Homo sapiens: one gene and its partners. The protein of the gene in region 2 interacts with the protein of the main gene of each other region in a pairwise test. Each region holds a gene or a part of one and is shown on either strand. Other genes may lie near its edges. The genes, in order: PAX2, MRC2 and PPM1D.

Region 1 (3,647 bases), on a different chromosome or scaffold from region 2:
GATGGCACACACTGGGATAATTTCTGGGGTCGCCTCGCAGTACATTACAGCACGAGTGTGGCAGAGGGAATCTTCTTTAGCCAAGGTACATTCTACCAGCTAATTTTACCTGCTGTTTTCAGGATGATTTGGGATAATTCCATATCATTTGCAAAATATTTAAAAAATCCTTTATATGTGATGCCAATTTCAGAATAAGGCACCATGTGAATTATTAGTTGCCCTGATAATGAGCTTATGAAGAATGCAAAAAATAACAAAGGTATGAACTGCTTAGCCCTCTTTTCATTTTGGGGTGTCTCAAAATGGGGGGCCAAGGCTGGTGTGTGACTTGTGCAGGGACTCTGTGAACAACTGTCAGTTTGTACAGTTCTGTGATCTTGAAACCAGCCTGGGTTCCTGAGCCCAGTGCTGCTTGTATGTTCTGTAGCTACCACAGATAGGCATATTGGCACACTGGCTAGGGTGGACATGCATGGAGTGTGCACATGTGTTCTCCCCGAGAGCACACTGGAGGGGTTTGGAGACCAGGAGACCTAAATATCCTACACGTCAAGCTGACTCAGCCCTGTGCTGTCCTCACGTGTGTGAGCCTGTCATCAGTGCAAAGACTTCAGCCTGGAGACAGGCACCTTAGGTGGTTGAGGGTATCACCCAAGGTTCAGTCTCAAAGTCTGGAGTTCTCCCTCCCTGCTTGGCACTCCCTCCTTGTCCAGCTCCTCTACTCCCTGCCAGTTGCTGGCTGGTGGTTGGCATTTGTTCTGCAAGCCCGGATCCCAGTGCCTACAGGCCAGAAATTTGTGTGGAGCTGGCTAGCAAGACCAGACTCCTGGGAGGTGAGCTTTGTGGGAGTTGGCAGGGAGGGTGAGGGAGCCAGGACAAGCGGCGGCCCCTGGGGAAGGAGCAGCCTTTAGAAAGGCCAGTCTGTTTGGAGGGATGAATAGACACTGGTCATTTTAAAGGCTCCGGCTGCAGGCTGTGATTGTCTCAAGATCCCAAGGCTGGATGCTCGTAATCTTGGAGTCTTAATTACCACAAACACTTGGATTCATTTCCAGGACGCCGGCGGGAGAAGCCTGGCAGGGAATACCCAGCCCTGAACTGCAGACAGCCCTGTCTGTCTGTCTAACTCTCTGCCTCACAGGTTCCCTTTCTCTGACAGAAGGATTTGGGGCTGGAAGCAGGGAGAAAGGGCAGAGGCTGGACAAAGAGCAGAGACTGGGCGTGGGACACCCCTGCAGGCAGGAGCCAGGAGCTGGAGTCCAGCCCTGAAAACCCGGGTGGCTTGCTCACCTGTTGATGGAAGAGACGCTGGGCACTGTGTCATTGTCACAGATGCCCTCGGCCAGGAGCCGGTCTCGAATCTCCCAGGCGAACATAGTCGGGTTCTGTCGTTTGTATTCAGCAATCTTGTCCACCACTTTGGGCGTCGCCACTTTGGGCTTGGAGCCACCGATCACACCCGGCTTGATGCTGCCGGTCTCGTAGTACCTGCGCCGGGAAAGCCGGCGGGGTCAGCCAGAAGCGGACTGTGGCGGGGCAGGGGGGCTGCAGGTTCCAGAGCTGCTGAGCCACTCTCCTGCCCGGCCGAGGCAGCGGAGTGGAGGGAAAAGGCCCAGTGTGGCTGAGCTGACTTCCTGAGGGTGCCTGGCTAGGAGGAGCGCCGCGGAGTAGGAGGACAAGGGGTACCATCCCTCCAGGGAGACGGCCACACCAGGGGCTGGGTTCGCACCAGCCCAAATAGGCACCCGTGGGAGTGAAAGCCCAGCCTTTCACTTGGGAAGAGCAAAACGAACAGCGCTGCAAGGTCTCTGGGAGGCCAGGGTTGAGGCACCACCTCGAGCCCTTTCCTACTGGGCACAGAGCATCTGTGGGAACCAGGACCCTCCTTCTGCCTCCCAAATGCTGCTGCTTCTCCTCTCGGGGACCCATTTTCACTCCCCCCCCATTCCTCTAATGTCTCCCACCCCGTATCTGCCTTAACTCCATTAGGAAAGTCATCCTTCCCTTTCTGAAGCCAGAAACGGGCTGCCTTCTCACCAGGGACCAGGGGCAGGGCAAGCACTGGGTGACACTGCGCCACCCTCGCTCCTGGGTCTTCAGCCACCATCTGAACACTCTCTCCAAAAGGAGCACCTCTCCAGACCCCTTTGGGGATCTCCCTCTCTGGCTTGGCACGCTGGACTTTTAGCCACGTCCTCCAGCTGGAGACCCAGGGCTGGCCGGGGAAGTAGGCAAGGCGTCTCCCGGGACAGCTGCGAAGCCCTCACCTGCCCAGGATTTTGCTGACACAGCCGTGGCTGACCCGCAGCTGCCGGGAGATGTCACAGGGCCGCACACCCTGGTGGGCCAGCTCCACGATGCGCTGCCTCACCACGTCGGGTAGGGGCCGGCCGTTCACAAACACCCCCCCGAGCTGGTTCACACCCCCGTGCCCTGCTGGGGAGAGACAAGAAAAAAACACAACACCCCACACACAGCAGGGACCGGCCATTAGTCAGGGTCCGCGGCCCGGGACGGGCGAAGGAAGCAGGCAGGGCGGAAGGGCATGTTCCCGAGCTTGAGAAGAAAGGTGGTGGACCTCCACGACCACGCGGAGGAGTGGGGACTGGAAGCACAGACGCTGGGCTGAAGACTGGGGGCTGGGCGAGAGGGCGACTCAGGCCTTGCGACGCAAGGTAGAAAGCAAAGGGGGGACTGGAGAGAAACCAGATGACAGAAAAGAGGGGAGAGGGGAGAAAATGCCAAAGGGGAATTCATGCCAGCGGAAAGGGCGTAAGAAAGCGAGGAGAGGAAGGGCCTGGCAGAGGACTGGACTAGTGCGAAGCAGCATCCCGCCTGCGCCGCAGGCAACCCGGGAGCTGTCCGCGCGTGCGGGGCTTGGAGGCGGACGATTTGGGGGCGTCGAGGCTCGGCTGACTGTTTATCCGAGCTCCTAGCACAGACAGGGGATAAGTGCCTGACACACACACCCCCCTTTGCTCTCTGCCTCTTCTTTAAAAAGTATTAAATTGTAATCGGAATTTTTCTACCTCTTTCCTGTGTTGTTTGTTTTTGATGGGAAGTTTTTCTAATGTTATTTATCTGTAGGGGGACCGTATCTCTCTTTCACCTCCTTAGTATCTGAAGTAGAGCAAGGAAGGCGGATGAGGCAGGGGCCCGGGGTCTGCTGCGCTCAGAGACAGGGAGGCAGAGCGGCTCCAGGCAGCAGGCAGAGAATGCCGGCTGCTTGGGCTCGCCTGCCTGCCGCGCCTCGCAGAGCCTGGTTGGGGCCCACCGTCTCGCCCAGGTGGCACGGCATAGGCCTCGCTGGCGAGTTAATAACTCTCGGGGCGCCCTGTGTAGCCGACCCAAACCCGACTCGAGTCCCTTTGACCCCTCAGACCTCGGCAGCCCCCCCAGGAAACCGAGCGGCTCGGGCTTTTGCTCTTTCGGCCAAGAGAAGGGCACGGGGTTTCCAACCCGGCTCCAGCGCGGGCTCCCGATCTCGGAACCGAGGCGGCCACTGGGTGCCAGGCCTGAGGGTGCTTCCTGTGCCCCATTCTCCCTGGCCTACAGCAGTCTAGAAATCCTGCACCCAGAGCGATCAACCCGTAGCCGCAGGTACTGAGCAATCCAAGCGCAGAGACTTCTAGCGGCCGAGTCGG
Region 2 (3,647 bases):
GAGAGGGAGGCGCAGGCCCAGAGGGGTGAGCTCCTAAAGATCGGGGGTGAGAGTGTCCCCTAGAGGCCCAGAGACAGACGCAAAATGGCCAGCTGCAGAAAACACCTGTGGTGCAAGCTCCAAAACAACAGTTATCTCCGAAGGGACAGACGTGAAGAAGCAGGCTCACCACAGGACAAGGCAGAACCTTCTCTTTCAAGCCTCTTAAAGGTGTTTTATTTGTTTGCTTTTCTTTTTTCCTTTTTTTTTAAAAACAATAATGGCACATTTAAAAAATCAACTACAGAGAAAGGGCCATGTCTTCGAGTCCATGTTCACATTGTCCCACGCTGTCGCACCAGGATGGGCCGCATACTTTGTCCTGGCTGGGACTGTGGCCTCTTGGAAGGGTACTGGGCCACTCCAGGGCTCGGGTGCTGCTCCTCCTGGATCCACTAGAGGGTGAACTCTGGGCCCTCCCAGACTCCTGCTCCTCTGGGGCCCCCAGGACTCTGGCAACCCTTCCCCTTGCTCCAAACCAGAGCCAGGAGCTGGAGATGTTAGGGAACTTATTTTGGTCCCCACAGGGGACTCTTCCAGGGGCAGAGCCCTCCCCCGCCCGGCAGGAGATGACATCCCAGCCCGGCCCAGCTCCCACCCTGGGAGGTTGGGGTGTCTCTCCCCAGTCTTATCTCCAGCCCAGCAGACACCACACCCGTGCCCTGGTTCTCAGGCCCAACCCACCTAGGCCCCTCCTGCCACGCCCCACAGCCACCCCAGCAGGCACAGGAGTGATGGATGCTCAGCCCCCTCAGCTGACCCTCATCAGGAACAAGAGGGCTCCCCAATCCCCAGGGCCCGGCTCAGAAGGAAGGGGTGGGAGAGAAGGGGCGAGAGGGAGCAGGGTGAGGGGCACAGAGCTGAGGCTGCCAGGTGGGAAGAGAGACACAACAGATCTGCCCGAGGGGACAGGGGAGGCTCCTCGGGCTCTGCAAAGAAGGGGGTCCTGGGGCGCGGATCAACAGGCCTGGGCCGGGGGCTCTGGGGAGAAAGAGGCTCTCGTTCCCCCTCCCATCCTACCTCTGGTTCCTGTGGGGGCACAGGACCAGGTGACAAGACCTCAGGCCCCCCCAGAAAGGGAAACGCCACGCTGCACTCAGCTGGGTCTCAGCCCAGCCCTTGTGGGAGGGTGGCACCCCACCAGCCCAGGCTCTGCCCAGCTCCGGCTCCCAACAGCGACTCCCAAGGGCACCCTTCCATAGGCCAACTGGACAGGCAGCTGGTGGGGGGCCAGACTGACCCAGGGCCCCAGCTCCCCAGCTCCTCCCGCCCTGGCCCTGCCCACGCGCCTGGCTCTATTCTTGTTGCTCATTCATTTCCATGTCTGACACCAGGATGTTCTTCTCAGTGGCCTCGGTGGGGCTGGAGCTGCTGCGGCTGTAGCGGGCACCCTCAAAGGCCCCGCGCTCGATGCTCTGGCGCCTCCGGTAAAGGATGAGGGCTGCGGTCAGCAAGGCCAGGAGCAGCAGCACCGCCATCAGCACCACCACCAGGGCCGCTGGGTTCTCTGGAAGCGCTGCCAAGGCGAGTGGGCGTGAAAGGCCAAGTGGGCGTTAGGCCCAGCAGTGCTTCCTGCCTGCCCACCTGGGGGCATTGCCTTTCACTCACCTGATGGGGAGAAGCTGCTCTGCTCAGCTGTGGGCAAGAGGAGGGGGCCAGTTAATAATAGCAGTGATCATCGTAATAATCACTTAAGTAAACATACAAAGCACACAGGCCTGGGCCGGGAGGTCTGGGGAGAAAGAGGCTCTAGTTCCCCCTCCCATCCTACCTCTGGTTACTGTGGGGGCACAGGCCCAAGAGACAAGACTTCAGGTTCCCCCAGAAAGGGAAAACGCCATGCTGCACTCAGCTAGGTCTCAGCCCAGCCCTCGTGGGAGGCCTGGGTGTCAGCCCCTTCCCTAACTCACCTCATCTTTACTAGCTTCACTAGCACTCTAGGAGGTCGGGACTTTTTTTTTTTTTTTTTTTTTTTGGAGACAGGGTCTTGCTGTGTTGCCCAGGCTGGAATGCAGTGGTGCGATCTCGGCTCACTGCAGCCTCCACCTCCACGGTTGAAGCAATTCACATGCCTCAGCCTCCTAAGTAGCTGGGACTACAGGCATGTGCTACCACGCCCAGCTAATTTTTGTACTTTTTGGTAGAGACGGGGTTTCACCATGTTGGCCAGGCTGGTCTTGAACCCCTGACCTCAAGTGATCCGCCCACCTCAGCCTCCCAAAGTGCTGGGATTACAGGCATGAGCCACCACATCAGTCTGGAACTACTATTATTCCCATTTTACATACGAGGAAACTGAGGCCACAGACTCTGCCCAAGGTCACACCACTGATAAGTGACATGGCCAGGACTTGAACTCTGTCCATGCCCTTGACCACTACAAAGTGACAGGGGGTTGCTGACCCCCGAGCCTTGTGGTCTAGTTTGGATGATAAGTTTCAGGTCCAGTCCATCCCACTGACTAATTTATCCCGGGGGTCCCAGCTGCCCGCAGTCCGTTCTGTTCAGGCCTTCCCATCGGCTGTGCCCCCTGCAGTTGTGAAGCAGCCCCCAGCCCCAGCCCAGGACCAGCGGCACGGGGTGGAAGGAGGCTGAGCGTGGGCCTGCCCGGCGCTCACCACGAGGAAGCTTGCAGACGACACCCATGGTGATGTTGGTGCAAGCGCCGGGGCGCCATAGCCCGCTGTTGCTCTGAATCCAGTAGCAGCTGTTGTGGCTCAGCATGCTGGGGCCCAAGCCCGGGGGCCCCCAGTTGGAGTAGTTCACAGCTGTGTTGTCCTGCCAGACCAGAGTGCCTCCTGCAGGAAAGAAGGCACTGAGGGAGCAGGGACAAGGTGGGGCAGGAGTAGGTGGAGGAGAGCAGGTGTGTTCTAGAACCGACTCCCTGTCCCCCGACAAGCCCCAGGACAAGGCTCAGGGCAAAGTGGAGGGCAGCCCCTTACAGCCTGAGGCTTGACCTCTCCACCCCACACACAGGGCACCCACCTTTGGGGTTGAAGTTCATGCCCAGCCAGGCGCCCCGACTCTGGCCCTCATAGCTCTGCAGGTGCTCCCAGACAAACACATTCTCCATCTCATCCAGGATAGACAGGACGGCCCCACCCGCTGGATGCAAAGAAGGCCCACGTCAGGGCGGATGGGTCTCCGGGGGGGGCAGAGTCCCCCAGAGCTGCTCCAGCCCTCTTCTCTGCAGCCTGAGTAGAGGATGGTGTGGAGTCTGTGGATTCATGTGTGTGTGTGTGCACATGTGCAAGTGTGTGGGGGGGCAGCATATGCACATATAGTGTCATGTATGGTCTCCACATGTGAGAGCACGAGGGCATCTTGTGTAAGTGCTGCCTATGGGTAGAGAGCAGTGTGGGGATGTACTCATGGGTCTGAGTGCCCACGAGAGGAGGTGCCACCTGCCCGCCATGTGTGGGCTCTGGCCTGGTCACCCACCTCTCTGGCAGCGCTGTCGCGCCTCCTTGTGGCCCAGCAGCAGCTCCATGTGGAAAGAATAGCAGTGCTCCCGGAAGGGAATCCACGCGGAGTCTGCCAGTCCCTGGGGACAGCTGCCATGGTAGCTTATTCTTCGGGGAGGAGGGGGCCCTGTGGGGGTACAGGAT
Region 3 (3,647 bases), 2.1 Mb from region 2:
TTTCCTATACGTACATACATATCTTTTTTTTTTTTTTTTTTGAGACAGTCTCACTCTATTGCTAGGTTGGAGTGCAGTGGCACGATCTCGGCTCACTGCAATCTCCACCTCCCAGGTTCAAGCAATTCCCCTGCCTCAGCCGCCTGAGTAGCTGCGACTACAGGTGCGCACCACCATGCCCGGCTAGTTTTTTGTATTTTAGTAGAGACAGGGTTTCACCATGTTGGCCAGGATGGTCTTGATCTCCTGACCTCATGATCCGCCCACCTCTGCCTCCCAAAGGGCTGGGATTACAGGCGTGAGCCACCGTGCTTGGCTCCTATACATACGTATCTATGATAAAATGTAATTTATAAATTAGGCACAGTAAGAAATTAACAACATTAATAAAATAAAACAAGTATAACAATATGCCAGCATTACTACTCTTGCTCTTTGGGTCCATTATTAAGTAAAATAAGAGTCACTTGAACATAAACACTGCAATACCATAAGAGTTGATCCGATAACCACACCCAAGATGGCTACTAAGTGACTAACAAGCTACTAAGTGACTAACAGGTAGGTAGCATATACAGCGTAGATATGCTGGGCAAAGAAATGATTAACATCCAGGGCTGACACAGTGGGACGAGACAAGATTTCATCATGCTACTCCCAACAGCACACAAGTTAAACTTACAAATTGTTTATTTCTAGAATTTTATATTTAATATTTCAACATTGAACAAAGTTAACAAACTGCAGAAAGTGAAACCAACACATAAGGGATGACAATAGCATACATATAGTAAGATGTCATATATAAGTTATAAAAACCATGCAGGCTGGGCACGGTGGCTCACACCTGTAATCCTAGCACTTTGGGAGGCCAAGGCGGGTGGATCACGAGGTCAGGAGTTCGAGACCAGCCTGGCCAACATGGTGAAACCCCATCTCTACTAAAAATACAAAAAATTAGCTGGGCGTGGTAGTGCGCGCCTGTAATTCCAGCTACTGGGGAGGCTGAGGTAGGAGAATCGCTTGAATCCAGGAGGCGGAGGTTGCGGTGAGCCGAGATCACGCCATTGCACTCCAGCCCGGGAGATTAAGCAAGACTCTGTCTTAAAAAACAAACAAACAAACAAAATACAAAATGTACTGTATATTGGTTAAAGATATACATAATAAAGGCCGGGCGCGGTGGCTCACGCCTGTAATCCCAGCACTTTGGGAGGCCGAGGAGGGCACATCACGAGGTCAGGAGATCGAGACCATCCTGGCTAACACGGTGAAACCCCGTCTCTACTAAAAATACAAAAAATTAGCCGGGCGTGGTGGCGGGCGCCTGTAGTCCCAGCCACTCGGGAGGCTGAGGCAGGAGAATGGTGTGAACCCAGGAGGCAGAGCTTGCAGTGAGCCAAGATAGCGCCACTGCACTCCAGCCTGGGCGACAGAGCGAGACTCTGTGTCAAAAAAAAAAAAAGATATACCTAATAAAATTATAAAAAAAATAGTGAGGATGATAAACACTGAATATAGAAGCAGTTGCCCCTCATGGGGAGTGAAAAAGATGTAATATGACACAGAGAGAAGGGGCTTAACTATACTGGTAATGTTTTATTATTTTATTTATTTATTTATTGTTGAGACAGAATCTCGCTCTGTTGCCAGGCTGGAGTGCAGTGTCGTTGATCTCAGCTCACTGTAGCTGGGACTACCAGCGCATGCCACCACACCCAGCTAATTTTTTGTATTTTTAGTAAAAACTGGGTTTCATCAGGTTCTTGACCTCATGATCTGCCTGCCTCGGCCTCCCAAAGTGCTGGGATTACAGGCGTGAGCCACCATGCCCGGCCTGGTAATGTTTTATTTTTTAAGCTGAGTTATGGATGGGTGTTTGTTTAATCATTTTACATCTTTTTGAATATTTCATAATATAAAGATGCAAAGAAATCTAGTTTTACCTGCATAATGTAGAAACTAATGAGAATTTAAATTGCTTCTATTTCTCTAAGTGATATCAATTCTGGAGAGACTACCTAATAAGGATCAAAAGTAATGACTGATAATGAAAATAGAAAAAATAAATTTGAACTTGATAAGTAATATGGCACACAACTCTTTCAGAACGTATAATTTATGAGAAGGTGAAGATCCTTTATGATGAAAAAATGCGAACAACCAACATAAAACAAGATACACATTTAAAATTCTATAGTTTAAGAGGTTTCTCCAAATTCAATTCTCTCTCCCCACTTTGGTTTCTTTCCATTTTAAATTAAAGTAATGCCAAATCTAGAACCAACAATTTATGTTAAGATTAACTTCTTCACGATTTCCTTGGTCATACTCTTTTAAAATGAATGCTCTAAATCTTCAGTCCAAGTTAACAAATGAAACTTTTGTATTTCATCTTCCTTTACAAATACTGTGGCCAATTCCCTGTAATCACACCAGAGATCACCCTTTGCAGAATGTCATCTTTCTATTGACTCTATTGATAAGACTATGACACAGAGCTAAAAGCTGCACTTCATTCACCATCTTCTTTAAACTATCAAAAGAAGGGACAATGAAAACATTATTTCCAATAAGTAAACCTAAAAAAGCCTATACAAACTTTAAAACTTATTTTTGCCAGGTGCGGTGGCTCACGCCTGTAATCCCAACACTTTGGGAGCCTGAGGCAGGTGGATCACTTGAGGTCGGGAGTTCAAGACCAGCCTGACCAACATGGAGAAACCCCAGAGACAGAGTCTCACTTCTTTTCTACTGAAAATACAAAATTAGCTGAGTGTGGTGGCACATGCGTGTAATCCCAGTTACTCGGGAAGCTGAGGCAGGAGAATCGCTTGAACCCGGGAGGTGGAGGTTGCAGTGAGCTGAGATCGCACCATTGCACTCCAGCCTGGGCAACAAGAGCAAAACTCCGTCTCAAAAATAAAACAAAACAAAACAAACAAAAAAACTTATTTCTTAGAAGGCAAGCATAATAAAAGGGCAGTAAACATATATATGTGAGTATAAATTAGGCATAACCTAAAACTTATGATCATGAATAAAGAAAAAAGAAAAATAATGACCTTTTAATAAAGAATATATTCAGGCCTGGATGTGGTGGCTTATGCCTGTAATAACAGCATTTTGGGAGGCCAAGCTGGGAAGACTTCTTGAACCCAGGGTAAGGAACCACCCTGGGCAACATGGCAAGACCCTGTCTCTATAAAAAAAAAAAATTAAAAAAAAAAATTAGCTGGGCGCATGCCTGTAGTCTCAGCTACTTTGCAGGCACATGCCTGTAGTCTCAGCTACTTCAGAGGCTGAGGCAGGAGGATCCCTTGAGCCAAGGAAGTCAAGGCTGCAGGGACCTTTGATCATGCCATTACACTCCAGCCTGGACAACAGAGCAAGACCCTGTCACACACACAAAAAAAGAATATATTTATATACTCTTTCATTCCATACTGTATTTACCAAATCTCCCTACCTCAAGACAAAAATAAGCCATTTAAAAAATTTTCCTTTGTAAATTTGGGAGGCGTACACATCATTAGAAAGACAAGAGAGGTCAAGCTTAACACCAAATAATTCAAGAAGGGCTCAGTAACATAGAAAAGCTATAATTTTAAAATGTAAGACAGTCCACATTCATCAGGATTTTTTTT

The links.
Region 1: the proteins of MRC2 (region 2) and PAX2 interact in a two-hybrid assay, tested with the Homo sapiens proteins (one large-scale study listed by BioGRID and IntAct).
Region 3: the proteins of MRC2 (region 2) and PPM1D interact in a two-hybrid assay, tested with the Homo sapiens proteins (one large-scale study listed by BioGRID and IntAct).

What each region holds. Positions count from the first base shown.
Region 1 is NC_000010.11:100,748,538-100,752,184, reverse strand, and holds part of PAX2 (paired box protein Pax-2), read right to left. Parts: intron 2,440-3,647; coding exon 2,271-2,439; intron 1,492-2,270; coding exon 1,294-1,491; intron 1-1,293. UniProt on the Homo sapiens protein: Transcription factor that may have a role in kidney cell differentiation. Has a critical role in the development of the urogenital tract, the eyes, and the CNS.
Region 2 is NC_000017.11:62,690,139-62,693,785, reverse strand, and holds the end of MRC2 (C-type mannose receptor 2 precursor), read right to left. Parts: intron 3,631-3,647; coding exon 3,481-3,630; intron 3,145-3,480; coding exon 3,025-3,144; intron 2,838-3,024; coding exon 2,658-2,837; intron 1,675-2,657; coding exon 1,648-1,674; intron 1,556-1,647; coding exon 1,335-1,555; 3' UTR 189-1,334; downstream 1-188. UniProt on the Homo sapiens protein: May play a role as endocytotic lectin receptor displaying calcium-dependent lectin activity. Internalizes glycosylated ligands from the extracellular space for release in an endosomal compartment via clathrin-mediated endocytosis.
Region 3 is NC_000017.11:60,606,571-60,610,217, reverse strand, and holds part of PPM1D (protein phosphatase 1D), read right to left. Parts: intron 1-3,647. UniProt on the Homo sapiens protein: Involved in the negative regulation of p53 expression. Required for the relief of p53-dependent checkpoint mediated cell cycle arrest.